Regions from separate parts of the Homo sapiens genome. Here region 2 is linked to region 1. Evidence: fine-mapped expression QTL. A gene starts in region 1. The other region holds a variant in brackets. All regions are shown on one strand. Distances are between the middles of the regions.

Region 1 (2,920 bases):
CTTTCAAGTGCCTTGAAGTAGTTTGGGTGTTATGGGTACACCAGTGAACAAAACAGACAAAATTGCTTCCCAGAATAAGCTTACTTCCTGGGGAATGGTTTGGGAGAGAAGTGCAATAAAATGTCATCACTATCAGGGAGTGACAACAGAAGGATCAGGGGACAGGGTCTCAGGTGTTGTGCCATTTATAAGGGTGGTCAGGTAAAACCCATTTGGTAAGATAAAATATATGAATGGGGAACTATAGGAAGTGATAAAATAAGACTTGCAGATATTTGGAGGAAAAGCATCCTAAGGAGAGCAAAAATTCTAAGGAAGGAGTGAGTCTTGTGAAATATGAAATAGTCCAATGCAGTTGGAGCAGTGAACCCAGGAGGGGTAGGAGATGAAATCATGACAGTATATACAACAGGGGGCCAGGTCATACAGAGTTTTAAAAACTGTTTTCAAAACTTTAGATTTACTTTGAGTAAGATGGGGCATCAGGGAAGTGTTCTAAACCAGGGAGTGAATGATTGTGAATGATTGGGCTAATATTTAATTCTGTCTCTCTGTCTGCTGAGTGTAGAATAAATCATGAGGCAGAAACAGGGTGACCAGCTAAAAGCCTTCCATGATATCCCAAGTCAGAGATGATGGTGGCTCAGCAGTGGTAGCACTGAAGGTAGTGAGAAGTCATCAGATTCTGGATATATTTTTTAAATTTATGGGAATAACTTTTTAAATGTACAATATTTCTCATAGTGATAAGTCCCATGAAAAAGAATTAGGAATAAAGTTTGAAAAGGAATAGAAGAGGGCCATAGGTTTGGCAATTTTTAAAAAGCTGACCATGGAAGACCTTTCTGAATGAATGACCTTTGAATAAAGATCCAGTTGAAGTGAGGGAGCAAACCACGTGGGTATATAGGGAAATCACAATCCATAGGGTGGGAACAACAAGAATAAGAACCCTAAGGCAGAAGCAAGCCTGGTATGTTCAAAGAACTGTAAGGAGTCTATGGACAGTGTGAGATTGTGGGTCAGAGAAGCTCGGGACAGTGAAGCAGAGCAGAAAGTGAGGGGGCTGGAAAATAGACAAGGTGAGATTGGGGGACAAAGAGATGAGTATGGAGAGAAAGACTGAAAAAGAGATGGGGGACTGAGAAAAAAGAGACGGAAAGACTGAGTGTGGGAACAACTGAGGGGTACTGAAGATATGCTGAGGGGCAGAAAGAAAAGACTGAGAATAAGTGGGCAACTGGGGTTCCAGAGGAGGTGCTGAGGTGGGGAGAGACAGAGGTTGAAGGACAATAAGGCATGCAAAGGAGGAATCTGAGATAAAGAGAAGGTAGACCGAAGAGCGGAGAGGAGGAGACTGAGACAGCGAGGGCTACTGAGAGCTGAGGGAAGAACAGACTGAGAGGCCCAGAGAGAAGAAACTGGGAGTTCCGATGCTGCATCAGCAGCCTCTGTGTACAGACTCTGGCGTCCCTGCCCCGCTTTAGCAGTTCCTACAGACGCTTGACCTGCCAGGAAAGGAAAGAAACCTGAGCCTCTGCTGAAAGGTGATGGATTTAAGGCCCGGCTGCTGAGGATAAGATAAAGGTCCTCCTGGGGGAGAACAGAGTCCCGAACACCATGGCCGTCTGGCTTGCCCAGTGGCTGGGCCCTCTGCTCTTGGTTTCCCTCTGGGGACTCTTGGCTCCAGGTAAGAGGAGGCTGAGGGTCAAGCAGGGCATCCTAAGGGGGCCAGCCTGACTTCCTTCCCTCCATGTCCCACAGCCTCCCTTCTTAGGCGCCTGGGTGAGCACATTCAGCAGTTTCAGGAGAGCTCTGCCCAGGGCCTGGGCCTGAGCCTGGGGCCAGGTGCTGCAGCCCTCCCAAAAGTGGGGTGGCTGGAGCAACTGCTGGACCCCTTCAACGTGTCCGACAGACGATCCTTCCTACAGGTGAGGCCGGGAGACGGGGAGTCCACTAACCATCCTGCCCTCTCCTCAGTCTCCCTCATCTCTTCCTCAGTCTGCACTTTTTTCTCTCTCCACACCTCAGTTCTCCCCATCCCTCTGCTTGAATCTCATGTTATGCTTGCTGTCAGTATCCCTTTTCCTGCCCTTTGTAGATTTGGCCTTACTCTCTCCTCTCCTCGGGGTCCCACTCGTTTTGTCCCTCAGATCTTGCCCTTCACCATTTCTTTCTCTCTGTCATTCACATTCACTGCTCCTCCCTACCCCCTTGTCCCTGTCCAGACTGGACACAAAACCTACCACCAGGTCTCAGTAGGTAGCAGAAATTTGAACCAGCTTTGGAATCAGACCTAGCTCACAACAGGCACTCAAAGATATCTATCGAAAGAAGGAACAAATTCGCCATTTTTCAGTGCTTCCTCTGTATTTAGTCTCCAAATATCATCCCACTTGGATCTTATTCCTAAATCCATCTGCATTTATTTCTTATTTTACAATTATTACTTCAAGAAATAGCAAGTTCCTTCAATGTGAGAGCCACTCCCTCAGTTCTGGGGATATAAGAGTGAAAAACCAGGTCAAAAATTTGCTTTTGTATATTTTGCATTCTAGATGAGGAGATGAACAGGGGAAAAGTGAGCAAGTAAATAAACAAGCTCATTTCAGACACTGTTAAGTACATAAGGAAAGATCCATTAGGAAGAGAGACTGGAACAAATGAGGAATTGAGAATAAGTCAGGACTCTCACAGTGCCATTTCTTCTTCCCCATCCCACCTCTCAGCGTTACTGGGTGAATGACCAACATTGGGTTGGCCAGGATGGACCCATATTCCTGCATCTAGGGGGTGAGGGCAGCCTTGGGCCTGGCTCAGTGATGAGAGGTAAGAGGCAATGTTGGGGGAAAGGAGTTGGGATGCTGGTGGGGACCAGGAAGGGGAGCTGCATATTGCAATGCTGTGAGACCTGAGGAGT
Region 2 (2,920 bases), 22 kb after region 1:
TAGCGTAGCATAATTTATTTAACTAGACCTCATTTGTTGGGCATTCAGGTGGTTCCTACTTTCTCTCTCTCATAAAGAAGTTTCACACGCCTCCCGCTCCTCCTGTTGTGTGACCGCTACGCGCGCCGCTACCGTGCTCTCCCGGCTCCAAGCGCAGACCAAGAGTTCCGCTGCCAGCAAGGCTGCTCTCCGCGTGCCGCAAAAGGATCTCAGAGTAAAGACGATCTTAAATTCGATATGTGAAGTTGATTCCCATGGAAACCTCGTCATCCTCTCATGACAATTATGACAGCTTTGCTTCTGATAATTTTGCAAACACGAGGCTTCAGTCAGTCCAGGAAGGCTGCTGGACCAGCAGCCAGTGCAGACACTCTGGACTTCTCAGGCAGGCGATGAAGTTTCCAGGGCGAAACACCAGGGGAGCAGCCAATAAAAAAGCAGAGTACCCCAAACCCTCAAGGAATTCTATGACTGGTTCCAATTCCGATTCAGAAGATGAAAGTGCCATGAATTTGTTTTGTTTTGTTTTGTTTTGTTTGAGGAAAGGGCTTGAAATATAAAGCAAAACAAAGCAATGCTTGTAAAACGCATGTCAGTATTAGAAGCTTCTCTGGTTTGTTCCCCGGAAGACATTCCCCGCCAGGCCCCAACTCACAATCAAGGAGACCCCAAGGTAAACATTCCTGGATGTTTCTTCAAGGAGACATTCTGAATGGAGAGAGCTCGGCCTCTTAGAGGTCAAGGTCAGGATCCTCGGGTCCCTTGGCGCTCTACCTACGGAAGAGAAGGAAGAAAAGACAGAGGCTAAGTACATGTTGGTGAGAAAGAGGAAGATTGTGGACGGCTACATGAACGAAGTTGAGATGCTCAGAAATCGTCCCGCCAGATCACCCATGATCCTTCCACATATAATTCGGCCACCGGAAGAAATTACAGAGGAAGGTTTGGAGAACATCTGCAGCAACTCTCAAGAGAAGATATATAACCGTTCGCTGGGTTCTATTTGTCATCAATGCCGCCAGAAAACTATTGTTATCAAACAAACTGCAGAAACCCAGACTGTTGGGGCTTTCAAGGCCTGTTCTGCGGCCCCGACCTTAGAAACCCTTGTGGTGAAGAGGTCAGGAATACTCTGCTGGATGCGAACTGGCATTGTCCGCCTTGTCGAGGCCGTGCAACTGCAGTTTCCGCTCGCAGCGAGATAGACTGTGGGAAACTGGGGTCCTTGAATATTTAGCCAAATACAATGGCTTTGGGAATGTGCATGCTTACTTGAAAAGTCTGAAACAGGAATTTGAAATGCAAGCATAATATTGGAAAATTCACTGCCTGTCTTCCACTTCTCAAATCTCTCTTGCTGAAGTTTTCAATTTTGTCATTGCTTGAAACCTGAATTAAGAATCTTGGTGATCAGTCTGTTTTATAAGAAACTTCCATCAAGAAGCAAAACAAGAACAAAAACAAAAACAAAAAAAAACCTTCCATCAAGAATCTTGACAATCAGCCTCTTTATAAGAAGCTCCAATCAAGATAAATCTCAGTAGAGACATGTGTTTCTGGAGCATCACTAAACGAATATTGCTGGCTATACTTTCCCCTCCTACAGTTTTCTCCTCTGCTCCCCACAACCTCCAATTCATAGTACCCTTTTCTCTTTCCAAT[G/T]GTCCTCTCCCCCTGCTTAGTTTCTGAAGTCTTTTTAAATGACAATTTTATGAAAGCATATTTGATTTAGTTGCAGTTGAAATAGCCCTGCAGTCCACTCATGAAACCTAAGCACTTAAAAACACAGTAGTAGTATTAATTAACTATATCTATTGAATTTCAGAGAACAGCCCTCTAACTTGTTTATGCAAAAACAATGGGTATGTGGGTTGGGAGCCATGGCTCATGCCTGTAATCCCAGCACTTGGGAGGCAGAGGCGGGCAGATCACCTCAGGTCAGGAGTTCAAGACCAGCCTGGCCAACATGGTGAAACCCAGGCTCTAATAAAAACATAAAAATTAGCTGGGCCTGGTGGTGGGTGACTGTAATCCCAGCTACTCAGGAGGCTGATGCAGGAGAAACGCTTGAAACTAGGAGGCGGTGTTTGCAGTGAGCAGAGATGGTGCCATTGCACTTCAGCCTGGGTGACAAGAGGGAAACTCCATCTCAAAAAGAAACAAAAAACAAAAAACCAATGGATATGATTTAGTGTTTATACTAGTTGATATTTTTAACAGAATCGAGGCACAAAAGTCTTAAAACCATGTGGGAAACTTAGGTAATTGTTGCAGAGTGTAGCATATTACTTCAGATGCCTCTCATGAATATATTCCATGTATTGTGCTTATGATACAAGTTGTCACATATGAGTCCTAGTTGCTGCTAATTTCTTCTGCCTTAAAGTTAAGTGTAGCATCTCCCTTACACAATCATGATCCAAAGGTTTGTGGGCAGTGTTATACTTACAATATAGATATATATAGATATATATGTCTATCATATTTATAGCCTATGTATGACTATATATGATATATACCAAATATGAGATATATATGATATATATGAGATATATATGATATATATGATATATATCATGTATGAGATATATATGATATATATGATATATATCATGTATGAGATATATATGATATATATGATATATATCATATATGAGATATATATGATATATATCATATATGAGATATATATGATATATATGAGATATATCATATATAGCCTATATAGACTATCATATATATAGTCTATATATGATAGACATATATGTCTATCATATATGTCATATAAAGTACTACCATTGTAATTTCCCAGGATATCTTTCGATGTCTTTCCTATACCATATAGGAAAGACATCCTGGGAAATTACAATGGTGAAACTTTAGGCGTAGGCTCATTGAATTCTTGGTATAAAACTTCATC

The links. PIP is the estimated chance that this variant, and not a neighbour inherited with it, causes the effect.
Region 2: its variant is the best candidate, but not a certain one, in a credible set for the expression of PRSS16 in whole blood (TOPMed, PIP 0.76).

What each region holds. Positions count from the first base shown.
Region 1 is chr6:27,246,118-27,249,037 of GRCh38, forward strand. PRSS16 (serine protease 16) reads left to right here and starts at 1,584. Exons shown (of 12, transcript NM_005865.4): 1 at 1,584-1,690; 2 at 1,765-1,931; 3 at 2,730-2,829. The coding sequence starts at 1,621.
Region 2 is chr6:27,267,922-27,270,841 of GRCh38, forward strand. It overlaps the pseudogene CDCA7P1. Among named protein-coding and RNA genes, the nearest start is that of TRI-AAT9-1, 4.6 kb to the right of the region's middle. The variant G/T (reference allele first, on the strand shown) is at 1,663.